Linked DNA regions of Homo sapiens. The protein of the gene in region 1 interacts with the protein of each later gene in a pairwise test. Each region holds a gene or a part of one and is shown in the gene's direction. Other genes may lie near its edges.

The links.
Region 2: the proteins of BCAR1 (region 1) and IQGAP1 interact in binary tests that used the Homo sapiens proteins (3 or more experiments, as listed by UniProt).
Region 3: the proteins of BCAR1 (region 1) and COPB1 interact in binary tests that used the Homo sapiens proteins (3 or more experiments, as listed by UniProt).
Region 4: the proteins of BCAR1 (region 1) and PRAM1 interact in binary tests that used the Homo sapiens proteins (3 or more experiments, as listed by UniProt).

What each region holds. Positions count from the first base shown.
Region 1 is NC_000016.10:75,227,660-75,234,626, reverse strand, and holds the end of BCAR1 (breast cancer anti-estrogen resistance protein 1), read left to right. Parts: intron 1-691; coding exon 692-781; intron 782-4,603; coding exon 4,604-5,116; 3' UTR 5,117-6,446; downstream 6,447-6,967. UniProt on the Homo sapiens protein: Docking protein which plays a central coordinating role for tyrosine kinase-based signaling related to cell adhesion. Implicated in induction of cell migration and cell branching. Involved in the BCAR3-mediated inhibition of TGFB signaling.
Region 2 is NC_000015.10:90,383,439-90,391,259, forward strand, and holds the start of IQGAP1 (ras GTPase-activating-like protein IQGAP1), read left to right. Parts: upstream 1-4,803; 5' UTR 4,804-4,903; coding exon 4,904-4,958; intron 4,959-7,335; coding exon 7,336-7,435; intron 7,436-7,821. UniProt on the Homo sapiens protein: Plays a crucial role in regulating the dynamics and assembly of the actin cytoskeleton.
Region 3 is NC_000011.10:14,475,795-14,482,817, reverse strand, and holds part of COPB1 (coatomer subunit beta), read left to right. Parts: intron 1-1,720; coding exon 1,721-1,828; intron 1,829-1,912; coding exon 1,913-2,059; intron 2,060-3,103; coding exon 3,104-3,249; intron 3,250-5,802; coding exon 5,803-5,899; intron 5,900-6,872; coding exon 6,873-7,023. UniProt on the Homo sapiens protein: The coatomer is a cytosolic protein complex that binds to dilysine motifs and reversibly associates with Golgi non-clathrin-coated vesicles, which further mediate biosynthetic protein transport from the ER, via the Golgi up to the trans Golgi network.
Region 4 is NC_000019.10:8,499,628-8,506,470, reverse strand, and holds the start of PRAM1 (PML-RARA-regulated adapter molecule 1), read left to right. Parts: upstream 1-3,830; 5' UTR 3,831-3,879; coding exon 3,880-3,906; intron 3,907-6,269; exon of another isoform or gene 6,270-6,326; coding exon of another isoform or gene 6,327-6,359; intron 6,360-6,690; coding exon 6,691-6,843. UniProt on the Homo sapiens protein: May be involved in myeloid differentiation. May be involved in integrin signaling in neutrophils. Binds to PtdIns(4)P.

The sequences.
Region 1 (6,967 bases):
TGTGCACACACACAAGGATGCTCTGAGCGTGGGGGAGCAGCAGGAGGTGGTGGGAGGTGGCTGGGACTGCTCCTCCCAGGCTGGCCCCTGGAGCAGAGGCCTGGGTGCTAGCCGGGTGGGAGTCCTGGTAAGGAACATTCCAGGCTGAGCTGGGCCAGAGAGGCATCCAGGGGCAGGGACCAGGTGGCCAGGCCTTTAGGCCAAGGGGGAGGGATTGGGTGTGATTCCTGGTGTTGGAGCCTGGGAAGGCAGGGTGGAGCTTGCGGACTTTCTGCGGGTACCCCACCCTCTGCCCAGTCTCTTCCTGAGCTGGCAGGCGGTGAAAGGGGCTGCCAGGGTTGCTTCCTAGGAAGCCACCTTCTCTGTGTGTCCCCGCATGTGCCAGCCTGGGGGGGCTGTGTCCCACATATGCCAGCCTGGGGGAGTGTGTGTGTGTGTGTGTGTGTGTGTGTGTGTGTGTGTCTGTCTGCCTGCCCCTGCACGTGCCAGTCTGTGTGTGTGTTCACGTGTGCTTGTGTGTGTGTGTGTGTCCACGTGTGCTAGTGTGTGTGTGCGTCCACGTGTGCGTGTGTGTGCGCGCACACGCAGCACCACCTGGTGGCCACTCAGCTCACTGCGCCCGCCACAGGGCTGGCCTGTGCTTCTGGCTCAGAAAACTGGCCTCAGCGCAGCCCCTGTCTCTGCCCTCCAGGGGAAGGAGGAGTTTGAGAAGACCCAGAAGGAGCTGCTGGAAAAGGGCAGCATCACGCGGCAGGGCAAGAGCCAGCTGGAGTTGCAGCAGGTGAGGCCCCGGAGCAGAGCAAGGCCCAGCTTTGCCCGCTGACCCCCTGAGCCCCCAGCTCTTGCCCTGCAGGGCCGACCCCGGGTCCCCAGCTTCTCATGTTGTCTGACAGTGCTCAGAGCTGGGCCCGGCCTGCCACCCCCCTGCCTCCTGACCATCTTCATCTTTTCACTTGGTTTATTTTAAAGTTTTCAAGAGTAATTGTTGGAGACATTTAGGGAATTAGAGAGTGGGGTGAGAGCAGAAAATAGACCCCTCACAGCTGCCATAGGCTCAGCACGGGGCTGGCTCTGCCCTGCTCCTTCCTCCAAGCTGCTCCCTGCATGGCCGGGATGGTGTCCTGTGGGCATTCGACTCTTCTGTCCCAGCATCTGCCATGGCGTTAAGCATTCTTGTGGATTCTTTCAAAGACCACTTAGCGTCTATTGAATGTTTGTATTGTACCCACACTTCCTTAGTATTTTTTTTTTTTTGACACAGAATCTTGTTCTGTCACACAGGCTAGAGTACAGTGATGCGATCTCAACTCACTGCAGCCTCAACCTTCTGGGCTCAAGCGATTCTCCTGCCTCAGCCTCCCCAGTAGTTGGGATTACAGGCGCCTGCCACCACACCTGGCTGATTTTTATATTTTTTATAGAGACAAAGGTTTCACCACATTGCCCAGGCTGGTCTCAAACACCTGGGCTCAAACGATCCACCTGCCTTGGCCTCCCAAAGTGCTGGGATTATAGTGTGAGCCACCACATCTGGCCCCTTATTATAAATATACTGCTGTGTTTATATGCAGACATGTTAATAGAATTTTCCTCATATTTTGAATCAGTTCTTCAGGGTAGGAAAGAGGTATGTAAAAAAACACTAAGGGAGCTTTATTCTGATTATGAAGATAATTTTAAAAGTGAAAATACAGGATAGCACGAAGTGAACATAAAAATATCACCCGTCAAATCTCCCTCGCCTACCTTCTGGGCACCAAGGAGGTGGCAGAGGCAGGGGCCTGAGACCCACGACACACAGCAGTGAGGCTGCAGCCGCCTCATGAGAGCTCGGTGAGAATCACTGAAAAGTGGAAGATGCCTGGGAAGTACCTGGCACATGGAGACACTCAGGAGAGGCTAGACATTGACATCTCAGAACGGTGGCAGGGTGGCAGGGGGTGGGGGCTGAGAAATTACCTAATGGGTACATTGTACCCACATAACAAAACTGCACCTGCACCCCTGTTAAATCTACTAAAGAAAACACCCAAGAAAAGAATAAATGTCACACCTGTAATCCTAACACTTTAGGAGGCTGAGGCAGGAGGATCACTTGAGGCCAAGGGTTTGAGACCAGCCAGGCCACGTAGTGAGACCCAAGTCTGTATACATTAATACAAATTGTGGCCAGGCACAGTGGCTCACACTTGTAATCCCAGCACATTGGGAGGCCAAGGCGGGCAGATCACTTGAGGTCACGAGTTTGAGACCAGCCTGGTCAACATGGCAAAACCCCATCTCTACTAAAAATACAAAAATTGGCCAGCATAGTGGCACACGCCTGTAGTCCCAGCTACTTGGGAAGCTGAGGCAGGAGAATCATTTGAACCCAGGAGGCGGAGCTTGCAGTGAGCCGAGATTGCGCCACTGCACTCCAGCCTGGGCGACAGGGTGAGATTCCGTCTCAAAAAAAATAAAATAAAATTGTTTTAAAAACCTCCTGGGTGCCGAGGCGGGCGGATCACCTGAGGTCGGGAGTTCGAGACCAGCCTGACCAACATGGAGAAACCCCATCTCTACTAAAAATACAAAACAATTAGCTGGGCATGGTGGCACATGCCTGTAATCCCAGCTACTTGGGAGGCTGAGGCAGGAGAATCGCTTGAACCCAGGAGGCGGAGGTTGCGGTGAGCCGAGATCGCACCACTGCACTCTAGCCTGGGCAACAAGAGCGAAACTCCGTCTCAAAAACAAAAAACCTCCTGAAATATCAACAATATATAGGTCTATATCTCTGTCTAGAGAGAGAACTCTGGGATCGCCGTGTTTTCAGAAGTGGTCGTGTACTTTGTCCGTCCTCTGTGTGCCTCCAGCACTGACTTCACCAGTCCCCTGCTGTTGGACACTTAGGCTGTTCCCAGAGTTTTACTTTTGTGAACAGTGCTGTGATGAATACTAGTCTTTGCACGTATCTGATGAATCACTTAGATAACTTGCTAGAAGCTGGATTAAAGGGCAAGAATATATGTGAAGAACTTTAAAGATGTAGAATTCCAAGGCCAAGGACATAAAGTCCATGTTAAATGCAAGTCCATGAAGACTTACTGATGAGAACATCTGTTGCCCCATTTTTGTATCGGTGAAGAATCTGAAATCTCCACCCACAAAGTGTCTAATAGGAGAGTATTGATTCAATAAAGTATGGACATTTATGCAGTGGGATATTATATAACTATGAAGAGTTGTCAAAGAATAAAAAGGGCTGGGTGCAGTGGCTCACGCTTGTAATCCCATCACTTTGGGAGACAGAGGCGGGAGGATCATCTGAGGTCAGGAGTTTGAGACCAGCTTGGCCAACATGGTGAAACCCCATCTTTACCAAAAATACAAAAATTAGCCAGGGGTGGTGGCGCAGGCCTGTAATCCCAGCTGAAGCAGGAGAATCGCTTGAACCCAGGAGGCAGAGGTTGCAGCGAGCCGAGATCGTGCCACTTCACTTCAGCCTGGGCGATAGAGCAAGACTCCATTTAAAAAAAAAAAAAAAAAGATTAGCCTGGGTGACAGATCAAGACTCCTTCTTTATAAAAATAAAAATAGTATTGAAAAAAAAAAAACCCCACAAAGCTTGTTGCCTGTGCTCTGTCAGGGCTCACTGCAGCCTGGACTTCCCAGACTCAAGTGATTCACCTGCCTCAGCCTCCCAAAGTGCTGGGATCACAGGCATGAGCCACCTCACCCTGCCTCATCAGAGCTTTTCAAAGAAAAAAAGCGGAGTATGTATCTCACTGGCTAAGGGAACGGAGAGATGGAGGATTTCACCAAGTGGCTGCCTAAGGGGGACAGTGCGAGGTTCTAAGTGTTAGGAAGGGGAGGTTTCCTATTGGTTTTGCTCATTGTGGCTTGGATCTTTGCGCCTAGGGTGGCACAGAGCTTACCAGTCCTGAGTCTGGGTGTGGCTGGTCACTTCCGGAGCCAGAGCGGCTCTAGTGAGGACACATTGTCCCCTTCAGCTGACTCCTAGGCACGGGAGTGGAAATGTTAACTTTCGTGTGTGGTTCTGGAAGATGATTTAGCAGAGGTTCTATTTAGGGGCATTGGATTACAGGTGACATCTTCGTTTTTTCTGTTTGATATATTTGAATCTTTTTATAATGTGTATGTTACTTTTGAACTAAGGGGAAAATTTTTTTAACCTTCCATTTTGAAATATTTATAGATTCACAGGAAGTTGCAAAGATAGGGTCGAGGGGTCCCCAGTGCCCTTCAGCCATTTTCCCCAGTGCCACGTCTCAAGTCACGTGGGACAGTACCCAAGCCAGGACGGTGACCCCCCGACCCCAGGCAGCCACTTTTCTGTTGTCCATCTTGTCATTTCAAAAATGTTCAGGGCACGGAGTCTGACCTTTTGAGACTGGTGGAAGGGTAACTGAACAACCTCCAGAAGGCTTGCCATGGTTCCTGGTCCCGTCCCCGGGAGAGGAGACTGCCCGTTTCCCTGCAGTCCCATGCACTCTGAGTAGCGGCCCTTTTAGAGAAGCCCAGCCCAGGGTGCCCAGGTCTCGGCCTGTAGTTCCAACTCACCCGAGAGCCTAACCCTGCTCCTGCTTCCCTCCTGCCCCAGCTGAAGCAGTTTGAACGACTGGAACAGGAGGTGTCACGGCCCATAGACCACGACCTGGCCAACTGGACGCCAGCCCAACCCCTGGCCCCGGGGCGAACAGGCGGCCTGGGGCCCTCGGACCGGCAGCTGCTGCTCTTCTACCTGGAGCAGTGTGAGGCCAACCTGACCACACTGACCAACGCCGTGGACGCCTTCTTTACCGCCGTGGCCACCAACCAGCCGCCCAAGATCTTTGTGGCGCACAGCAAGTTCGTCATCCTCAGCGCCCACAAGCTGGTGTTCATCGGGGACACACTGTCACGGCAGGCCAAGGCTGCTGACGTGCGCAGCCAGGTGACCCACTACAGCAACCTGCTGTGCGACCTCCTGCGCGGCATCGTGGCCACCACCAAGGCCGCTGCCTTGCAGTACCCATCGCCTTCCGCGGCCCAGGACATGGTGGAGAGGGTCAAGGAGCTGGGCCACAGCACCCAGCAGTTCCGCCGCGTCCTAGGCCAGCTGGCAGCCGCCTGAGGGTGGTGACCCCAGGAGGGAGGCAGGGGAGGGGTGCGGCGGTCCCAGCTCCCTGGCTCCCATGTCAAGAGTCGCTGTGCCACAGGCTTAGGGACAGGACCCCAGCTCTGCGTCGGTCCTGGTGCCCTGGATGCCCAGGAATCTGTATATATTTATGGCCGGGCAGGGTGTGGGGCCATGCCTCCTCAGGAGCCGAAGCCCAGGGGCCGGCCAGTGGCCTTCCCCAGCATGCACCACGGGCCCGGGTTGGGTCACCAGACGGGGCTGGAGTGTGAGGGTCCTGCAGCCTGCAGGACCTCGTGCCACCCCGAGGGCTGAGCCTGGTCCCACGAGGGTGCCGTGTCCCCTGACAGGGCCAGTGCAGTTTGGTGTGTCCTCCGCCTTACCAGGAGAAGAACCTGAAGAACTATTTTTCGTTATTGGTTTTCCAATCATTTGACTAAGAGTCTCCATTTAAATAAAGTTTTTAAAAGGAAGAGCAGCTGCCTGAGGGTGGCAGATGAGAGCAGCCCGGGGTGGGTGACGGTTCTGGGGAAGGCACCCGGGGGCAAGGGCCATGCGTGGCATCTCCCGGGAGGGCAGAGGAGGAGTGGGTCTCTCTAGAAGAAAACCAAGGAACGCCGAGGCTGGGTGTCTCCTGGAGGCGGGGTGAGGCCTGCAGCTGGCCACAAGGCCCTGGGAGCCAGGGCAGAGCCTGGGCCCAAGAAAGGGGGCAGTTTCAGAGCTGCAGGGTCTGGGGCCCAGAAAGCACAGCCTGGGCATGGCCCCTGCAACCCTAGGGAGCTGCCACAGTGAGCACCTGCCCATGCCCACAGCTGGCATCTGGAGTGAGGGCAGATTGGGGCAGGAACAGCTGCACAAGGGGACGGGTTCCTGTGAGCCGAGGGCACCGCTGGGGGCTGCATCCAGAGCTCTGCTTAAAAGAATCTCATCCCAGCCTGCGGAACTCCCGAAGTGCACATGGAATTATACCTGGACCTGGCATCTGAGTTGGGAGGGAGGGGCTTGGAGAAGACCCTTGCCCTGGGCAAGTGTGTCCCCCTTCGTGGCTCCCCCACCCAGCAGCCCGCAGCCCAGATGGAAGCTTCAGGGTGCTTGGAACCCCTGGTGCTGCTCCCAGCCCTGACCGTTCTGCATATGAACATGGGCCTTGGTTTCCCCATCTGTATGAAGAAGGGAGTAGGGCTGGGTGATTCGCAAGCCCTCCTGATCTTACCTCTACAGAGGTTGTCCCCGTGACAGCATCTGTCCCCCCACCTCAGCCACATCATGCTCAGCCCACCTGCCTTGGTGAGGACACAGAGGTAAAGGTGTATGCAGTTGCTCTCAATGGCTTTATTTGTGTTTTACACAGATGCGGGGTAGGGGGGGTGGTCTCGGCCTCCACGCCTTCCCAGGCATGAATTTCATGATGCGGGCATCCACGCCTGGTGACAACAGGAGGTGCTGGTGCTGCTCCAGGACACGATGCCCTCCAGAGTCCAGGCTCCATCCTGGCAGGCAAGGGCTGTCGGAGTCACCCTGCAGGAAGGAGAGGAGGTGTCTCCAGGCCTGAACTGGGTGCCAGGGCCTGGGAGACCCTAACCTGGCGGAGTCCAGGGAGGGGTGCGGAGAAATGGCAAGTGTGGGTGCAGGGGCTGTGCCAGGGTCCTGAGGCCTGGGTTCACGTGGCAGCCCCAGCTCTGCCATGCACACTCCTGGAGGGAGCTGGGGCAAGTGGCTTTCATCCATGCCGGGGCGCCATTCATCCCATGAGCTGACGCTTCCAGCTCAGAGGGCTGGGAAGAGGAGGAAGTCCCCAGGCAGCCTCGCCTGCCTGGTTCAGGAAGCTGTGAGCCTGAGTCCTGGCCC
Region 2 (7,821 bases), on another chromosome or scaffold:
TATAGGTGTGAGCCGTTGTGCCTGGCCAGCATGTTATTATCTTAATGTCTATTTCTCTGAATCTTGAGTTTATTGACTAGGAATTGGGCTTTGTCATTAGACAGGCCTGGGTTTGAGTTCCAGCTCTGCCTCTTGCTGTGTGGCTTCAGGTAAGTAACCCAGTTCTCCATTTTCCCAAGTGTAAAATGGACATAATGGGATTATTACAAGGATCAGCTGAGAAAATAAATGTGCAACACTTAGTATAGTAAGGTACCAGTGCAGTTGGTAACTTAACATCTCTGTGGCTTTCACCTCAGACAAACTTTGTAATTAAGTAAAGAAAGCCTTTATGGAATGAACAATTGGATTAATATGTTGGAGTTAAGAAGAAATATTTCGGCTGGGCATGGTGGCTCATGCCTATAACCCCAGCACATTGGGAGGCCAAGGTGGGCAGATCACTTGAGGTCAAGAGTTCGAGACCAGCCTGGCCAACATGGCAAAACCTCACCTCCAGTAAAAATACAAAAATTAGCCGGGTGTGGTCGTGTGCGCCTGTAAGCCCAGCTACTCAGGAGGCTGAGGCAGGATAATCACTTGAACTTGGGAGGCTGAGGTTGCAGTGAGCCGAAATCACGCCACTGCACTCCAGCCTGGGTGACAGAGTGAAACTCTGTCTCAAAAAAAAAAAAAAAAAAAGAAGAAGAAGAAGAAATATTTCACATTTTATGTATTCGCAATGTTTAAGAAAATTTGGCCGACTTGAATGACAGCTTTTTTGTAAATCATTTTAAATGTGTAATTGAGTTAGTTTTAGACTTAGGTTTTTGAGTTGAAAGCTTACTAAGTTTACACATGGAATCAGGCCATCTAAGAGAATGTTAGCTTTGTTATGCTTGTATGTTTATTTATAGGAATTACTAAGTTTTGAAAAAGTTTTAAACAATTGAATGAATTAAAAAGAAAATCTAGGCCGGGCACAGTGGTTCACGCCTGTAATCCAAGCAGTTTGGGAGGCAGAGGTGGGTGGATCACCTGAGGTCAGGAGTTCAAGACCAGCCTGGGCAACATGGTGAAATCCCGTCTCTACTAAAAATACAAAAATTAGCTGGGCGCGGTGGTGCGTGCCTGTAATCCCAGCTACTCAGGAGGCTGAGGCAGGAGAATCGCTTGAGCCCAGGAGGCAGAGGTTGCAATGAGCCAAGATTGTGCCATTACACTCCAGCCTGTGCGACAGAGTGAGACTCCGTCTCAAAAAAAAAAAAAAGTTTTGAAAAAGTTTTATACGATTGAATGAACTAAAAAGAAAATCTAGGCCAGGTGCGGTGGCTCATGCCTGTAATCTTAGCACTTTGGGAGGCCGAGGCCAGTGGATCACAAGGTCAGGAGTTTGAGACCAGCCTGGCCAATATAGTGAAACCCCATCTCTAATAAAAAAATATATATATATATAAAATTAGCCAGGTGTGGTGGCGGGTGCCTGTAATTCCAGCCACTTGGGAGGCTGAGGCAGAAGAATCCCTTGAACCCGGGAGGCGGAGGTTGCAGTGAGCTGAGATTGCACCATTGCACTCCAGCCTGGGTGACAAGAGTGAAACTCCATCTCAAAAGAAAAAAAAAAAGAAAATGTAATAGGAAATCTAATATAGACAATATAATAGGCACAATTTATTCTTTATTATTATTTTTTATTTTTATTTATTTATTTTTTTGAGATGGAGTCTCGCTCTATTGCCTAGGCTAGAGTGCAGAGGCATGATCTTGGCTCACTGCAAGCTCCGCCTCCAGGGTTCACGCCATTCTCCTGCCTCAGCCTCCCGAGTAGCTGGAATACAGGTGCCCGCCACCATGCCCGGCTAATTTTTTTTTTTTTTGTGTTTTTAATAGAGCTGGGGTTTCACCGTGTTAGCCTGGATGGTCTCAATATCCTGACCTCGTGATTCGCCCACCTCGGCCTCCGAAAGTGCTAGGATTACAGGCGTGAGCCACCGTGCCCGGCAATTATTATTATTTTTTAAAAGACAGTCTCGCTCCGTCAACCAGGCTGGATTGCAGGAGCACAATCTCGGCTCACTGCAACCTCTGCCTCCTGGGTTCAAGTGATTCTCCTGCCTTAGCCTCCCGAGTAGCTGGGACTACAGGCGTGTGTCACCATACTAAGCTAATTTTTTTGTATTTTAGTAGAGACGGGGGTTTCACCATGTTGGCCAGGCTGCTCTCGAACTCCTGACCTAAGGTGATCCACCCACCTTGACCTCCCAAAGTGCTCGGATTACAGGTGTGAGCCACTGTGCCTGCCCTAGTAGGCATAATTTTAAATATTTGAAGATGTTGAATTAACTGAGTGAGACTTAAAAAAAAATTTTCAGGAAATTTCAGAATGCTCTATGTCCTCGTTGCCATTGCGGCTGCCTTTCTCAAGAATGCCTGGCCTAAGGAGCGGGTGCTGGTCCTGTTCCTCACCATCGGGGGCCTAGCTATAAATCTGACCCCAGTCTGCCCCTATACCATGTACTCCACCAGGATCAACTAGGCCACGCCCCACAACAACCCAGTGCCCCTCCGAGATGATGGGAACATGCTGGACATGCCCAGCCACCCCCAAGGCCCAAGCATGGAGTGGTTGAAGAAACTGCAAGCACTTCCATTGACATGGAGAAGACCATGTCCCCTGTGGCCCCCAATAAAAATGTGACCCCCCCGCCTCCGAAATAAATAAATCATTCAGTTTCTGAAAAGTGTTTGGTAAAATGTGCTAGACTTATAAATAGAATAATACAATTTGTAAAGTGAACTTAAAAGCTTAAGAATGAAATAACTTTTTACTTTGTAGGCTTAATAAATGAAACCCTTGCCCACTTTTCTACAGGGGTGTTTTGTTCTTACAGGTTTTCAAGTATCTTTAATAGTCTGAAGGAAGAGTGAATACATTGAAAATAGCTGGAGCAAAACATCTGGAGTCAGGCTATGATTTGGCATGCTAAATCATGCTGAACTTGGCCCATTATCTTGAAGGGAGGAATAGAAAAAAAAATTTAAAAAGAGAAACACAATTGCATTTGCACTTTAGAGAGAACACCCTGATAACTGTGAGGATCTAGTTGGCAGAAGGGCGACTACAGTGTAATCACAACAGGGATGGAGACAAAAGTAGACATCTCAGAAATAAACACAGATTGGATGTAGGGTGCGAGGCAAGGAGCCTGGGGTGTTCCCACTGGGAATTGAGTACTTCTGTGAATAGAGAATATAGCAGGAGCAGGGTCAGTATTTGACACGTGGGATTTGAAGTGTCTGCCCTATACACAGGTGAAAGTGTTCATTAGCTGAAAATACTGAGGGACTTCCAGACGATCTGGTCTGGTGATACATATCGAGGGGTCCTCAGCAGTTATAGGCGAGTGTAGAAAAGATTACTGAGTAGGCAAAGAATAAACGGAAGAGGGCCGGGCGCGGTGGCTCACACCTGTAATCTCAGCACTTTGGGAAGCAGAAGCGGGTGGATTACCTGAGGTCAGGAGTTCGAGACCAGCCTGATCAACATGGTGAAACCCTGCCTCTACTAAAAATACAAAAAAAGTAGTTGGGCGTGGTGGCGGGCACCTATAATCCCAGCTACTTGGGAGGCTGAGGCGGGAGAGTCGCTTGAACCCGGGAGGCGGAGGTTGCAGTGAGCCGAGATCGCGCCACTGCACTCCAGCCTGAACGACTGAGCAAAACTCCGTCTCAAAAAAAAAAAAAAAAAAAAAATGCCGGGCGCGGTGGCTCACGCCTGTAATCCCAGCACTGTGGGAGGCCGAGGCGGGTGGATCACGAGGTCAGGAGATCGAGACCATCCTGGCTAACACGGTGAAACCCCGTCTCTACTAAAAATACAAAAACTTAGCCGGGCGCGGTGGCGGGTGCCTGTAGACTCAGCTACTCGGGAGGCTGAGGCAGGAGAATGGCGCGAACCCGGGAGGCGGAGCTTGCAGTGAGCCCGGATCGCGCCACTGCACTCCAGCCTGGGCGACAGAGCGAGACTCCGTCTCAAAAAAAAAAGAAAATAAAAAAAAAGAAAGAAAGAAAAGAAAAAAGAATAAACAGAAGAGGGCTGCGGACAGAATACCGTTGAATACCAATATCTGAAGGGCAAGCCACAAGGTGCAGGGGGCAGAGGCATCCCTGATACGGGAAAAGAGTTATTTTAAAAAGAACTTGCAAAGAACAATGTCAAGGGATCCAAAGGTAGGGAATTTGGACAGAGTTCGGCTTTAGCATCCGCATCTCAAATACCTGGGTACCTGGGTAATCTGGTGACTGCTGCCGAATCTAAGAGGACTGAGGCCAGGTTGCCAAACTGCGGAGAGTGGGGTTGGAGGGCTTTCATGGCAGTTTGGGGCCTGCTTGTGTCCAACAAGACAACCTGGGTCACCTCAAAGGGTGTCTTCTCCAAATATTGGTGCAGAGGTTAGCTGGGCCGGCAAGAGAAGGGAGATGACCCACTATTTTGATTTCAGGCAGCAGACACCGGCAGCCTTTCGGTTAGAGTTGCGGATAGGGCAGTGGCCTTGGGGGCGGGGCTATAAACCTGGGCGGGCATTCCCGGCAGGGCAAGCTCAGCGTGAGCCCGATTGGAGGATGGGCTCTACCTTCTTCCTTCCGCCTACGGAGACCATAGCGGGATGCAGGGCGGGGCCGGGCTGAGGGGGCGGAGTTAGGGGCGGGGCACGGTGACTCTGGCCCCGCCTCTTTCCGGCCGCTCAGGGCGGTGTCGCTGGGGCGGTGCCGCTGGGGCGGGGCCTGCGGGGTGGGGCTGACGGCACGGGGCGGGGCCTCGGGGACCCCGGCAAGCCCGCGCACTTGGCAGGAGCTGTAGCTACCGCCGTCCGCGCCTCCAAGGTTTCACGGCTTCCTCAGCAGAGACTCGGGCTCGTCCGCCATGTCCGCCGCAGACGAGGTTGACGGGCTGGGCGTGGCCCGGCCGCACTATGGCTGTGAGTGCGGGGCTCCGCGGCGCGGGGGCTTCGGGCTGGGCTAATTGCAGACGAGGCGCGATTTTCCTGGGGGCTCGGCCGGGCGGGTGGGGCAGGGCGGCTGCCGGCAGCTCGGACCCGGAAGAGCCGTCCCGGTGGGGCGGCGGGCGGCGGGCGGGGAGGCCCCTGGTTCGCGCCCCCTCGGGGTCCGAGGCGGCGGAGAGGACCCCCGAGGCCTCCCGCCTTAGCTGGGGCCGCGGTAGGGGGAGCCCCACCCAGCGCCTCTCGCCGCCCAGGCTCGGCCGAGATTGGGGAAGACGGCCTAGAGTGAGGTGGCAGGATGACCGCGCAGGGCGTGTCCCGGGGATTGGGGGTCTGGGTACGCGGGCTCTGCCCGTTTCGTGGAAAGGCGCTGCCCTAGTGTTGCCTGCGGGGTAGACCCAAGGGATAGACCAGGGTCCAGACCTGTCCGGTCCCAGGCTAGCTACGAGGTGCCGTCCTGGGCAAGTCACTTCAGTTTTCTCGGGCTTAGTTCCCTCCTCAAGATTTCAAAAGTAAAATAGTAATAAAGAAAAAAAAAAGAAGCAGAAAATCCTCTGACTTCCTCATTTTCTGTTGTCGGCCCTGGACGTCATTGAACTGCAGGCAGGATTGGCTAAAGGAGGACCCTTTGGGATTTTGAGGTTTTCGGTTTTATTTTATATTGTGGGAATAATGTTCTTTTTTAAAGGATCAACATTTCACGCATCAACAGTTATACGTGAGGTATTGTGCCACGTTTGTGAAATTAAAGATGAGTAAGATCAGGCCCTGTCTCCAAAGAGCGTTTTAATCAGAGAGTCAGGTGTGCAAGCTAATGATTATAAGGTGCAATAATGATAAAAGATGCTGAACTTACTAGCCATACAGAGTAATGTAGGTAAGGAGAAGGGGCCTGGGGAAGACAGTATGAGCACGGGAGGTGACTTTTTTTTTTTTTTTTTTGGAGACAGGGGGTCTTGCTCTGGTCGCCCAGCCTGGAGTTCAGTGGTGCAATCTCAGCTCACTGCAAACTCCACCTCCCAGGTTCAAGCGATTCTCCTGCAGTCTCCCGAGTACAGGCGTCGGCCACCACACTGGCTAATTTTTGTATTTTTAGTAGAGACAGGGTTTCACTGTGTTGGTCAGGCTGGTCTCAAACTCCTGATCTCAAATGATCCCCACGCCTCGACCTCCCAAAGTGTGAGCCACTGCACCTGGCCTGAAGGTGACATTTGAACAGAGCCTTGAAGAATGCTGTGTAGAAAGTTTGACAGGTGGCCAGGCATAGTGACTCCTGCGTGTAATCCCAGCACTTTGGGAGTCCGAGGTGAGAGGATAGTTTGAGGCCTTGAGTTTGAGACCAGCCTGGGCAGCACAGTGAGACTCCATCTCTTAAAAAAAAAAAAAAAAATTAGCCAGGCGTGGTGGCCCATGCCTGTGGTCCCAGCTGCTTGGGGCTGAGGTAGGAGGATCATTTGAGCCCAGAAAGTCGAGGCTGCAGTAAGCCATGATTGTGCCACTGCACTCGAGCCGGAGTGACAGAACAAGACCCTGTCTCAAAAAAAAAAAAAAAAAAGTTTGATAGGGCATGTGGAACAAGAGACAGGACCTGAGGGAAGAGCATAAACAAAGGTATTGAAAGTAGAGGGATACTGTGTTGGGAACTGAGTGATGTAGACTGCACAGTGGTGGGAGGAAGGGAAGAGGAGAGTTTCCAAAAATAGTTGGGACCAGACTGGGAAAGGCCTTGAATGCCTTCCCAAGGAGTTAGGAATTTATTCCACACCTGGTGCCCATGAAGGAAGCAGATTGCTTCAAGGTTAAGCTCAGGCTTTGGAGACAGACTCTCCAGGTTTGGATTCAGGCCCTGTCACTTATTTGCCATGGGGCTGAGTTCACCCAGCCTCAGTTTCTTCGTCTGTAAAATAGGAGTGATAATCACAGGATTGTTGTGGGGTTTCAATGAGAGAATGCGTGTAAAATGCTTCGTACAATTACTGCCACTTATGTCTCAATAACTGCTGGCTTTGGTCATTAATAAAAGAGGGAAACAATATTATCAGATCTGTATTTAGAAGGAGTTCTGGCAGATAGGGACAGATTTGTGCCAAAATCTCAAGACAGTATTTTTCAAGATTACACTGAAACTTAGTACATATTTATATTATCATACATTTTTAAAAAGGTCAAGATGATTATAGTTGAAACCACATAGTTCTTTTTTTAAGAAAGTCATTGTAGTACACCTGGCTGGCTACACACTCATTAGTTATCCTGACTTTCTAGGTGAGTGGCAGGAAATTGATTCTGTGGCAATCTTTTATCACTCAGGAAGGCTACAGATCCTGGTGTTTACATTCTTTCTTTTATGTTGTAGCTGTCCTGGATAATGAAAGACTTACTGCAGAGGAGATGGATGAAAGGAGACGTCAGAACGTGGCTTATGAGTACCTTTGTCATTTGGAAGAAGCGAAGAGGTAAAGATTGGCTGGCTGGAGAGAAGATTAAGAGAAGGGAACTGATAATAGTGTGAATACAAATAAAGATTGCTTTGAGGCTGAACACAGTGGTCCATGCCTGTAATCCCAACACGTTGGGAGGCCGAGGTGGGGGGGAATCACTTGAACCCAGCTGTTTGAGACCAGATTGGGCAACATAGTGACACCCCATCTCTACAAAAAAATTTTAAAAATTAGCCAGGCATGGTGGTGCATGCCAGTAGTCCTAGCTACTCGGGAGCCTGAGGAGGGAGGATCACTTGAGTCCGGGAGGTCGAGGCAGCAGTGAGCCGTGCTCTCACCACTGTGCTCTAGCCTGGGTGACAAAACTCCTGTTTTTGGTGGGGGGAAAAAAAAGAAAAGAT
Region 3 (7,023 bases), on another chromosome or scaffold:
ACGCCTGTAATCCCAGCACTTTGGGAGGCAGAGGCGGGCACATCATCTGAGGTCAGGAGTTTGAGACCAGCCTGGCCAACATGGTAAAACCCTGTCTATACTAAAAATAACAAAAATTAGCTGGGTGTGGTGAAGTGCGCCTGTAATCCCAACTACTTGGGAGGCTGAGGCAGGAGAATCACTTGAACCCAGGAGGCAGAGGTTGCAGTGAGCTGAGATCGTGCCACTGCACTCCAGCCTGGGCAACAGAGTGAGACTCTGTCTCAAAAAAAAAAAATGTTTTTCTAAAGTGAATCAGTATTATATTTTTTTATCTTTTCGGTTTGTACTGTATTGACTATTCTTAGCGACAGTGACATACTCATTTTAATTTGAATATAATTTACATTTCGTGGAAAATTATTATACCAATTGAGAATAAAAGGTGATCTGATTCTAGAAAATTATCACCATATTTGTTTAATCCATGAGAATAATAATGGTTATAAAAATAAAACCCCATGGCAGGTAAATGCAGTGCTGATCTTGGATCAGAACAACAGCAACAACAAATTTCTATGAAGGACATTATTGGGACAGATTGAGAAATATGAATATGGTGTGTATATTAGTTAATAGTATTGATCAGTGTTAAATTCTCTGATAATTATAATGTGGTTATATAAGAAATTATCCTTACCCTTGAGAGAGATACACTAAAATTATCAGCAGTAAAGAGCAAATGTGGGCCAGGTGTGGTGGCTCATGCCTAAAATCGCAGCACTTTGGGAGGCTGAGGCAGGTGGATCACCTGAGGTCAGGAGTTCGAGACCACCCTGACAAATATGGTGAAACCCTCCCTGTCTCCATTAAAATACAAAAATTAGCTGGACATGGTGGTGTGCAACTGTAGTCCCAGCTACTCAGGAGGCTGAGACAGGAGAATTGCTTGAACCCAGGAGGCAGAGGTTGCAGTGAGCCAAGATCTTGCCACTGCACTCCAGCCTGGGTGACAGAGCAAGACTCCATCTCAAAAAAAAGAAAAGAGCAAATGTGGGAAGATATTAACTGGTGAATGTAGGTGAAGGATATACAGGAGTTCACTCTTAGAACTTTTTTATCAGTTTCGAATTGTTTTTAAGTGTGCATCTTTTAAATGTTACATTTTCCTATGGAGTCAAATAATATCACATTTAACGAAATTGTTAATAATTTATGAATGTTATCTAATACCAAGTCTATATGTAGATTTTCCCAGTTATCCCAAAAGCCCTTTTTGTTTAGTTTGCCCATTTTGTGACCATGTATCGTATTTGGTGGTTATGCCCTTTCAGTCTCTTAATTTTGGACAGTATCTTTTTTTTATGACACTGATTTGTTGAAGAGACCAGACCAGTAATACTATAAAATGCCCCTCTTTCTGGATGTGTATGGCTACTTTCTTACGTTGTTTAGCTTGTTCTTTGACTTCTGTTACTTTCTATAAACTGTAAGTTGGAGCTTTAGCTTTAGCTTGACAGAGTCAAAGTAAACATTATCAGTTTGAATGTGTCATGTGCTATTATTTCATATTGCAGTGTATCAGGAGACCCAAACTATCTAGTTCTTCCACCACTAGTGGTTTTGTTATTGATTAAAGAATTAAAGTGATGATAGATAAACCCCACCATTCTGCAGTGAAGATTTTTTTCCTGTGACCAGAAAGATTGGTGTTAATTCTTGATTTTTTCTTCTTTTTTAGGATCTGGTTATGGATATCCTAAGAGTATTGAGCACACCAGACTTAGAAGTACGAAAGAAAACTCTGCAGTTAGCACTGGATCTTGTCTCTTCTAGAAATGTTGAAGAGGTAAAAGGAAACTCTGACAGCACTTTGTAGCTATCAGGCCCAAATATGATGTAACTCTCACTTATTTTTACTTCATTCTATAAGCTGGTTATTGTCCTGAAGAAGGAAGTGATAAAAACAAATAATGTGTCTGAGCATGAAGATACTGACAAATACAGACAACTCCTAGTGCGAACATTGCATTCCTGTTCTGTCCGATTTCCAGATATGGCTGCAAATGTTATTCCTGTGGTATGTAATTCTGATGACTTTAATTTTGAAATTATCTAAAAGAATTTTTTAAAAAATATAGTTATTTGACAAACTCCAGAAATCTCAGCTGCCTAGAACCATTAAATCTCATGGTGAGAAGTGATCTTTATATCTACCTCTACCTTTAAACTCAGAAGGGTGAGGACTGACTTCTTTCACTTATATATTCATCAAAAAAACAAAAACAGTGACCAAAAAAAAGCTTTGCATATTATTTTAATTGATGATACAGTTACCTAAAGTAAAATTATGCTGTGTATATATATTATTCAGTAAGGCAAATAGGTATTTATTTTAAATAGCTTTAGCTCTTAAAGGAATCAGTTATAGGAAAAATTCACATATGTAGAATATTTTGCTGTCACTGTCAGATAAGTGAGGTATGTTATTATAATTTGATTTTTGCCTTTGAGCTCTTGAGTTCTCTCTAAAATGATTTTAGTTACAATTTAGGAGGATCGAATTCATTTATTTATTTGGAGTTTTGGATCTCTAGCTTATCTTTTATAGTGAATTTTAAAATAAATTTTGCTGCACATAAAATGGAAAAGCCATTGTGACTTTGTTTACATAATAGTACTTGTCTCTCAATTTACATTTTGTTGTGTATTTGAAAATTATTAAGAATTACAAGGGTCAGGCATGGCACTTCATGTCTGTAATTCGAGCACTTTGGGAGGGCTAGGCAAGAGGATTACTTGAGGCCAGGGATTCAAGACCAGCCAGGGCAATATAGGGAGACCCTGTCTCTACAAAAAAATTAATATTAGCTAGGCATAGTGTCATGCCTGAAGTCCTAGCTCCTGGGGAGGCTGAGGCTGCCAGAGGATCACTTGAGCCCAAGAGTTCAAGGCTGCAGTGAGCTATGATTGTGCCACTATTCTCTAGCCTGGGCAGCAAAGCAAGACCCTGTCTCTTAGAAAACAAAAAAAGAATTACATTCTTTTAATTTATTTCTTGTCCTAGATAATTTTCTTTTCGAAAATTGTTAGTTCCATTTTCTTTTTTTTTTTTTTCTTTTAGTTAATGGAATTTCTCAGTGACAACAACGAAGCAGCAGCTGCTGATGTCTTGGAGTTTGTTCGTGAAGCCATTCAGCGCTTTGATAACCTGAGAATGCTTATTGTTGAGAAGATGCTTGAAGTCTTTCATGCTATTAAATCTGTCAAGTAGGTTTAAAATACATTTAAATGTAAGGTCAAGTAAGCATTTTATCAGTTTTTATCTTTAAAGGGTCAGTTGATAGAAAATAGAATGGAGAGGACAATCAAGCCAAAATAAGACAAGTTTGTACAACAAGCATCTCGCTAACTCCACTCTCATTTAGTCTATAATAAATGGCCCAAAATAATTTTTTTAGGAGTGATTTAGCTCAGGGTCTCTATTCTGATTTTCTCTAAAACATTGTGAATCTTAAAGTAACTAAAGAGCATATTTTTAAATGGCATCACTTTTTGGCTATTACTATTATTTATATCTTCCTTTCACATTTAATGAAGAGAAAGATTGAAAATGCAACCTAAATCTGTCTTTCCCTTCAGAGAGCCTTTGCTAATGAGAAAGGACTGTTGCATCTAAATTTTGCTTCATTTAAAGCATCTGATGGATAGTCTCTAACAGACTTGAAATATGTCTCAGGAAGGAAGGGACAAGTACAAAATTGTTTTTATGATATGAAAATATATTAATATTTATGGAAGTGAGCAGAGCAGGATTTGCTTCCTTTGTGAGAAGAAAATCATATTAAGGATTTGCTTTTTTTTTTTTTTTTTTTTTTTTTGTGAGAGGGCTTTCCGGCAAAAACCAGAAAGCCTGCTAAACAAATTTTAAAAGAGCTATGACATTAAGAATTTGTTTTTGACAGCCATAATCTCTTAGAGCTTTGGTTTCTATAATTAAGTTTTTCTGAATAAATTTAATTAAAATCTTAGGGGAAAGATGACTAAGGACTTTATTCAGTTTAACATTTTAAACTAAAGAATTGTTGGCTGGGTATGGTGGCTCACACTTGTATTCCCAGCACTTTGGGAGGCCAAGGCAGGAGAATTGCTGGATGTCAGGAGTTGGAGACCAGCCTGGGCAACATGGTGAGACTTTGTCTCTATTTATTTTTTTAATCTAAATGAATGAATGAATGGTTGCTTTCTTTACTATTATTTTTTTACTGATCCCTTGTACTTCTTCTGTATCCATTGTTCAGTTCAACACCTTGCCTCTTCAGTGACTGAAAATAAAAAGTGAATTACTTTTTACATTAAAATAATACATTCCTGATTTTTTGTTTTTGTTTTTGTTTTGTTTTTACTTTATTTATTTATTTTTTTAAGAGAGATGAGGGCCTTGCTTTGTTGCCCAGGCTGGTCTCGAACTCCTGGACTAAAGCAATCCTCCCACCTCATCCTCCCCAGATGCTGAGATTACAGGTGTGAGCCACAGTGTCTGGCCATAAAATAATACATTTCTTAGAGTAGTAAGAGATTAAGCCAAATTTGCCTTCACTGTGTCCTAAATGGACACTTTACTGGGAAACATTTTGGTATTTTATTTTTACTGCTAGGTTTACCAGTTTTAGAATGTTCCTAATAATAAGAACAGTTATTTTACTTTTAATCTTTGTGATTTCTGGAGAGAACTGAAACCTAGGTTTTGTTAGATTCTTTCTGAAATATTTATCTAAAATACTTTAGAACTGCAGAATCTTGTTGGTTTTTGTTTTTTGTTTTTTTGTTATTGAGACAGAAGCTTGCTCTGTCACCCAGGCTGGAGTGCAGTGGCGCTATCTCAGGGCATTGCAACCTCCGCCTCCTGGATTCAGGCAGTTCTTTTTTTTTTTTTTTTTTTGAGATGGAGTCTTGCTCTGTCTCACAGGCTAGAGTGCAGTGGCGCGATCTCGGCTCACTGCAACCGCCGCCTCTCATGTTCAAGCGATTCTCCAGCCTCAGCCTCCCAAGTATCTGGACTACAGGTGCGTGCCACTGCATCCAGCAAATTTTTTTTGTATTTTCAGTAGAGACGAGGTTTCACCATGTTTGTGAGGCTGGTCTTGAACTCCCAACCTCAGGTGATCCGCCCGCCTCAGCCTCTCAAAGTGCTGGGATTACAGGCGTGAGCCACTGTGCCCGGCCTCAAGGAGCTCTTATGCCTCAGTTTCCTCAATAGCTGGGATTACAGATGTGCATCACCATGCCTGGCTGATTTTTGTATTTTTAGTAGAGATGGGGTTTCACCATGTTGCCCAGGCTGGTTTTGAGCTCCTGGGCTCAAGTGATCCGCTGGCCTCAGCCTCCGAATGTGCTAGGATTACAGGCGTGAGCCACCGTGCCTGGCCCTTGTTTTTTTTTTTTTTTTGAGACGGAGTCTCGCTCTGTCACCCAGCCTGGAGTGCAGTGGCGCGATCTTGGCTCACTGCAAGCTCCGCTTCCCGAGAATGGGTTCCCGCCATTCTCCTGCCTCAGCCTCCCGGGTAGCTGGGACTACAGGCGCCCGCCACCATGCCCGGCTAATTTTTTTGTATTTTTAGTAGAGACGTGATTTCACCATGTTAGCCAGGATGGTCTCGATCTCCTGACCTCGTGATCCGCCCGCCTCGGCCTCCCAAAGTGCTGGGATTACAGGCGTGAGTGCCTGGCCCTTGTTTTTATTTGAGCTTAAATTAACAAAGAAAGATCTCTGCTTCAAGATTTGTCTGCCAAGTTCATGTTTCAGATCTTGTATTGTGCTAGGATTTACCGAGGAGCATTATGGATCCTGGGAGAATACTGTAGTACCAAGGAAGACATTCAGAGTGTGATGACTGAGATCCGCAGGTCCCTTGGAGAGGTATGTTTTACTTTAGTAAATGTTAGTTTATATGGTAATTTTTCCTTTAGGAAAATCTGACTTTTTATAGTGATTTGCTTACATTATTTACACTTCTGAGTTAGATTTTGTTTGAACAAAATGTTCTGTGTTTATTAAAAAAAAAAAAAAAAAAAAGAAGCAGTAGCTTGTAAAATTCTGCTTTAGCCTGTATTCTGAAGGAAGAATGCCTTAGAGTAAGTCTGACTTCAGAATATTTATGCAGTAAAACTGACAGTATTCTTCATCCTAACAACCTTATGGTAGAATAGAAAGAACAGTGGACTAATTATCAGGAGACCTGACAATTAGTTCTAGTCATTGTTGTGTCGACAGTTAGCTGGAGGACCTTGAATATAAGTTCCTCAACCTAACTTGACATCAGTGTTTTTCACCTATAAAATAAATTAAAATAGGTAATGATTAAATACTCTTAGTGCTCTTATATTAGGTAATGGACTGGTATTGAGTAATAAATACATAATAGCCATTCAGTTAATTTAAAAGTTAGTTGATGAGGTTATTATGTACAAATAAGTCGGATTTATTTCATTTTAGAAGGATGAGTACTGTTTTGGTTAAAATTTCAAGGAAAGGAATGAAGAAGAGGAATACGACTTAATGACCATCTGCTTTGTGTTAGACACTGTCCAATGCATTTTTCTATTAGGTAAAATGTGTAGAAAGAATTAAGATTTCCACTTAGCAGATTAAGAAACTGAGGTCCAAAGTAGTAAGTGGCAGAGTGAGAATTCAAACCCTGGAATATCCATCTCTGAAGCCCCTATTCTACCTACTACATTATCCTGGGAAGGAAATAAATTGAAAGCAGAGTTCCCAGTTCCAAAAATCCCATTAGGGTAATGCCTTTTTTAGAGAAACAATCAAATATTTAAAGATAATTTTGCTTGCTGTTGATACTATTACTAAAATGATGTTTCCAATTGACTTTTAGATCCCAATTGTAGAGTCAGAAATAAAGAAAGAAGCTGGTGAATTAAAACCTGAAGAAGAAATAACTGTAGGGCCAGTTCAGAAATTGGTTACTGAAATGGGTACCTATGCAACTCAGAGTGCCCTTAGCAGTTCTAGACCCACCAAGAAAG
Region 4 (6,843 bases), on another chromosome or scaffold:
AGTGAACTGACTGCCGCGAGGCCTGGGGAGCTGGCTCACCACCTGTCCTCCACCGTTCACCCTGTCCACTGCAGAAACGACCTCCTACCCTCAAGCCGGCCCCCAACCCCCATGCACAGGAGCCCAGCCCTCTTGGGCCCCGGCTCCGCCCAGCAGGGGGCGCCCAGGAATCTCAGACTCGGGGGAATGAAAGCCGGGAGAGCAGTGGGGATAGCGGGCAGGTTGGCTGGAAGCCGCGGGCTCGCGCTGAACAGCTCTGAGGCCGGCCAGAGGCCCGTGCCCGGCATTTGTCCAGCCCCAGCTGTCACTTGCAGGTGCCGGTCCGGTTACCCTCATTGCGGGCCAGGAGCGGGGAGGTGGAGGGCGCCCTGCGGCCCTGGGATCCGCCGCCCACGTGCTCCCCGGGCTCCTCCCCCTGCACACCGTTGTTCGCGTTTCCGACCCCGCAGATTCCCCAAGGCGCGCCCTAACGAACTCTCACTCCCCTGGTCCGGGCTCCCTTCTCCGGGATTCCGGTAACCCTATCTGTCCCTGTCTGCAGCCGCGCCGCGCGGAACCCTGCCGGGAGCCCCTACGGAGGCGCCAAATACACAAAGGGTAGTTGGCGGGGAGGCGCACCATGACTACAGCTCCGGGACCTGCGCTTCACCCCCACGGCGCCCCCGTGGGGCCTTGGTGCGCGCGCCCTGGCTGGACCCTCCTAGCTGCGAGAGTGCACGGGTAGTGACCAGCCCAGGCACCTGGGAATCCATCAGCTGTCATCCAATCCTTTAATTACCTTGATTGAGCTCCTTACTGTGGCCAAGCATTGCTTGATTTATTTATTTACTTATTTTTATTATTTAATTTAATTTTTTTTTTTTTGAGACGGTGTCTCGCCTTGTCACCCAGGTTGGAGTGCAATGGCGCAATCTCAGCTCACTGCAACCTCCGCCTCCCGGGTTCAAGCGATTCTCCCGCCTCAGCCTCCCAGGTACCTGGGATTACAGGTGTGCACAAACAGTATTTTTAGTAGAGACAGGGTTTCATCATGTTGGCCAGGCTGCTCTCGAACTCCTGACCTCAGGTGATACGCCCGCCTGGCCTCCCAAACTTCTGGGATTACAGGCGTCAGCCACCGCGCCTGGCCACTTGTTCTTTCTTTCATTCTTTCCTTCACTTGCCAAGGTTCTGGAGACCCACAGAGAGCCCATACTGTCCTCCCGAGACTCCTTTTTGGGAGGGCAACCCACATCTGGGAACTGTGCCCCAGGACAGGATGCAAAGGCACAACAGAGATGGCAGAATCCTGATGTCTGTGCTCTTAAAGGAGGCGTGAAAACAGGCAGGCCAGGCGCAGTGACTAAGGCCTGTAATCCCAGCACTTTGGGAGGCCCACGTGGGTAGATTGCTTGAGGTCAGGAGTTTGAGACCAGCCTGGCCAATGGTGACACCCCAGCTCTGCTAAAAATCCAGAAAATTAGCCGGGCATGTTGGCAGGCACCTGTAATCCCAGCTACTTGAAGCCGGGAGGCAGCCTGGGAGACAGAGCAAGACTTTGTCTCAAAAAAAAAATTTTAAAATGTTTTAAAAATACTTGCTCGGGCCACACCCCAGACTGATTAAGTCAGAGTTTCTTGTAGGTTCTGTTTTTTGTTTTGTTTTTTTTTAGATGGAGTTTTGCTCTGTCACCCAGACTGGAGTGCAGTGGAGCCATCTCGTCTCACTGCAACCTCCGCCTCCTGGGTTCAAGCAATTCTCCTGCCTCAGCCTCCCAAGTAGCCAAGATTACAGGCATGCGCCACCACGCCGAGCTAATTTTTGTATTTTTAGTAGAGATGGGGTTTCTCCATGTTGCCCAGGCTGGTCTTGAACTCCCAACCTCAGGTGATCAACCTCAGGTGATCCACCCGACTCAGCCTCCCAAAGTGCTGGGATTACAGGCGTGAGCCACACTGCCCAACCGCCGGTTCTTTTTTTTTTTTTTTTAACTGTTCAGGCAATTCCAACATGTGCTCAAACTGAAAACCAGGGCTCTCTACTCTCTTAGCAGGTGTTTTCTCCCTTTGTCTACCGTGACGGAGATTACTGATCTCCTGTGGGCTGAGCTCTGTGGTCAGGGCTTGTCCTTATCTGGCCAGTCCTCGGCACCACAAGTGACTGCCTTCACCCCCTCTTGGCCCCTGTCTCTGTCTCCTGGTTCCTCTTCTCTCTACTACCTCTAACCTCTGGGAATCTGGTGTGTCCTCGGGTCCTCAGACCCCCTCACTCCTCCAGAACTGCAAAGCCTTTTTTTTTTTTTTTTTTTGAGATGGAGTCTCTCTCTGTCACCCAGCATGGAGTACAGTGGCGTGATCTTGACTCTGCAACCTCCGCCTTCAGGGTTCAAGTGATTCTCCCACCCCAGCCTCCCAAGCAGCTGGGACCACAGGCGTGCACCATCACACCTGGCTAATTTTATATTTTTTGTAGAGATGGAGTCTTGCTACATTGCCCAAGCTGGTCTTGAACTCCTGGGCTCAAGTGATCCTCCTGCCTCAGCCTCCCAAAGTGTTAGGATTACAGGCGTGAGCCACCGTGCGTGGCCCAGGTGCAAGGCCTTTGACACCACTCACCCACCGACCCCCAAATCTGCTGTACCAGCTAAGCTTTCTGCCCAGGGCGGCAGCCTGGGACATCCATGGCCTGTGATATCTGCCCCAGAACAAGTGAGTCCTGCTCAGAGCCGGGAATTGGATTTCATGGAAGTGTTGAAATGAGGAAGGCGGATGAGCCAACCAGGGCAGACAGCAGAGGCCTCACCCGGTCACATGGGCCCCCACGTCCTGGGCCTCTGGGCCTCCCCAGGAGCCTCCTAAACCCCAGAGCTGTCCGTACCCCTGATCTGCTGAGATCTCCCCATCCTGTGGCTCTCTAGCCCAGGAGGTCACCAGGGCCTGGCATGGAGTCCTCCCTGGAGTCCAGAGATGGGGACACCAAAGTAGTAGGAATGATGGGGACTATAGAGAGTAAGAAACTAGTTGGCCAGGCGTGGTTGCTCACGCCTGTAGTCCCAGCACTTTGGGAGGCCGAGGCGGGCAGATCATCTGAGGTTGGGAGTTTGAGACCAGCCTGACCAACATGGTGAAACCCCGTCTCTACTAAAAATACAAAAAATTAGCCGGCAGTGGTGGCACATGCATGTAATTCCAGCTACTCAGGAGACTGAGGCAGGACAATCGCTTGAACCTGGGAGGCGGAGGTTGCAGTGAGTCGAGATTGCGCCACTACACTCCAGCCTGGGCAACAAAGTGATACCCCGTCTCAAAAAAAAAAAAAAAAAAAAAAAAAAGAAAGAAACTAGTGACCATGTTAGGAACATGCGGGCAACCAGTGCCCCAAGCTTGGGACAGTAGCAGGCAGGACAGGAATTCAAGCGAAATAGAAGTGCCCAGCAGGGGCCGGGGCAGTGGCTCACACCTGTAATCCCAGCACTTTGGTAGGCCGAGGCGGACCGATCCCTTGAGGTCAGGAGTTTGAGACCAGCCTGCCCAACATGGTGAAACCCCTTCTCTACTAAAGATACGAAAAGTAGCCAGGAGCGGTGGTGCGCGCCTGTAATCCCAGCTACTCAGGAGGTTGATGCAAAAGAATTGCCTGAACCCGGGAGGCAGAGGTTGCAGTGAGCCGAGATGGCACCATGGCACTCCAGCCTGGGCGACAGAGCAAGACTCAGTCTCAAAAAAAAAGAAGTGGCTGGCAGGATCTGGAGACGGACTGGAGCCTCCCCACCTCCTTCCCTTCCTCCTCTGCCCTCCCCCGCCCCACCTCTAGCAGCCCCCACCCTGTGTGCTGACCGTGGAGCAGAAGCCACAGTCACTTCCTGAAGGCAGCGGCCCCAGCTCGGGTCCCACTCATCCCATGGCCCATCACCTGCCTGCAGCCATGGTGAGTGCTGGAAGAGGCCTGTGCCTCACTGGCTGGGAAGCAAGGGACACAGATGTTCCCAGAAGGATAGGATCCACCTGTGGAGGGGCGGGCGGGGGGGCGGGGGGTGGCTGCGAAAGACATCTGGGAAACGGGAAGGGTCGGCAAAAAGGACCCGAGGTAGGCGGCCACCAGGCACACCCCAGGACAGCGCGGGCTCCTGGGGGTTCACGCTCAGGTTGGGACTGCGAGGGGGACAGATGGGACTCCCCGGGGGGACAACTCCCGTCTCCCCAGGTCAACATGAGCAGCCATGTGGGAACGGGCTGCTGGGGTGAGAGCAGTGCTTTCCTGCGGGGTGACAAAGTGGGTCATGACCCTCCCCCGTCCAGTCACCCAAGTTGTGACCTGCTAACCCTGACTTATCTAGCCCTGTGGTCGCCCGGGAGCACTTCCTTCAAACCACTCGGGGCTTTGACAGGGGCACTTCAGGCCCCAGGTGGGAATTGCTGCCTTTCCAAGGAGCAATCCTGGTCTCTGGTCCTCTGGATGGGGAAAGTGAGGCACACGCAGGAAGCAAAGGCCACACGTTTCTGCCCTTTCCCTCCCCCAATCTCCTTGACCACAGGTGAAAGGGGCGTTTGTAGGACTAAGGAGGCCTGGCCTTCTTGTGAATCTGCCTACCTCTGTGAGGAGTGGTTGCAGGGCCAGCTAGGAGGGCAGCTGGGACAGCTGGGTATGCAGGAGACAGCGCCTGTGCCCACGGTGTCTGCACCAATCCTCTCAGGCACTGTCAACTGTGAGCATTCCTGACCATCAGCCCGCATGTCAGAGACGGTGTGAGAGGGACCGCATGGCCGTCTCCAGGCATCTCTGTGTTTTCCTGATGGTCAGGCTGAGTACATGGCTGTCTTTGTGCTGCCTGAATATTGTTTATTTCAGCAAATATTTACTGAGCACCTACCATGTTCCAGGCCCTGGGAAGACAGCAATGAATGAGCCAAGTCTCTGCCTTGCAGAGGCTGAGGAACTGAGGGAAGTTGTGGTGTAGAGAGACAAAAAAAAAAAAAAAAAAAAATCAAGACACATTAAAAACAATGTAAAATAGTATAATACGTAGGGGTGGGTACGATGGAGAAAATCATGCATGCTGAATGCAGGGCAGTAGTGGGATGGGGTGATCCATTTAAAATAGGGTGGTCTAGGCCAGGCGTGATGGCTCATGCACTTTGGGAGGCCGAGGTGGGTGGATCACTTGAGGTCAGGAGTTCGAGACCAGCCTGGCCAACATGGTAAAACCCTGTTTCCATTAAAAATACAAAAAAAATTAGCCAGGCGTCGTGGCAGACACCTGTGATCCCAGCTACTCAGGAGGCTGAGAATCGCTTGAACCCAGGAGGCGGAGGTTGCAGTATGGCGAGATTCCACCACTGCATTCCAACCTGGGTGACAGAGTGAGACTCCGTCTCAAAAAAAAAAAAAAAAAAGAAAGAAAGAAAAATAGGGTGGTCTAGGTTGGGCACGGTGGCTCACACCTGTAATCCCAGCACTTTGGGAGGCTGAGGCGGGTGGAGGGTGGATCACCTGAGGTCGTGAGTTTGAGACCAGCCTGGCCAACGTGGTGAAACCCTGTCTCTAGTTAAAATACAAAAATTAGCCAGGTGTGGTGGCGAGTGCCTGTAATCCCAGCTACTTGGGCGGCTGAGGCACGAGAATCATTTGAACCTGGGAAGTGGAGATTGCAGTGAGCCGAGATCGCGCCATTGCACTCCAGTCTGGGTGACAGAGCAAGACTCCATCTCAAAAAATAAAAATAAACAAATAGGGTGGCCTTGGATGGCCTCTCTAATAAGAAAATATGAGAACAGAGGCTGGGAGGAGGAAAAGGAGAGACCCAGGTGGTGCAGAGACATGTCCTGGGTCAGGGACAGGGCAGAGGCCCCGAGGTCGGAGGGAAGTGTTCAGGGTGCAGGGAGGAGAAGGTGGCTGGGTAGGGAGGCTGGTTCGCCCAGGCTTTTATGAGGCATTTAGCTTGAACTGTGGGGACATGAGGAAGCATTGCCGAGTTTTGAGCAGAGGGACACAAACAGACTCAGGGTTCAACAGGCTTCTCCCTCCAGCTGCCATGGGGGGAACTGACCAGGGAAGGGGGTAGGCAGAGGCCCAGGGAAGGGCTTGTTAGAGTAATCCAGGCAATTGGTTGGGGGAGGGCAGACACTGCCTCCCACTACCTCCTGGGGTGACAGTGGTGAAGGCAGTGAGAAGTGGTTGGATTCCGGATGTGTTTTGAAATTAGCACAGAAGGGACTGGGGGCCTGGGCGCGGCGGCTCAAGCCTGTAATCCCAGCTACTGGGGAGGCCGAGGTCGGGGGAATCATTGGAGCCCAGGAGTTGCAAGCTGCAGTGAGCTATGATTGCACCACTGCTCTCCAGCCTGGGCAATGGAACGAGACTGGAGACATGCAGTGGGAGGGGTGAAAGAATGAGGGGGTCAAGGATGCTGGGGGGGTGGGGTACCACCCATGGGGGGAGGGCAGTGGGACTGGAGGCTGCAGGAGGGATGTCGGGATCTCCAGTGCTGCTAGAGGAGGTTGGGTGTGGAATCAGCACTAAATGGAGAAGTAGGGAGGGGTGTCGGTCCCAGGATCCTAGGATCCATGGGGGCTCCTGGGAAAGAGCTGAGGGCTGACCGGGCCTGGGCGCAGGGGTGGTGGTTGTGGGCTGTGCCTGAGGGTCCCCAGGCCCATCCTTCCATGCCCCTTCTGTGTGTTTGAGCCCCTGCCTCATTGGCTCTGCGTCTCCTAGGAGAGCCATCAGGACTTCCGGAGCATCAAAGCAAAGTTCCAGGCCTCTCAGCCGGAGCCCAGCGACCTGCCCAAAAAACCTCCGAAGCCTGAGTTTGGTAAACTGAAGAAGTTCTCCCAGCCTGAGCTAAGCGAGCACCCCAAGAAGGCCCCG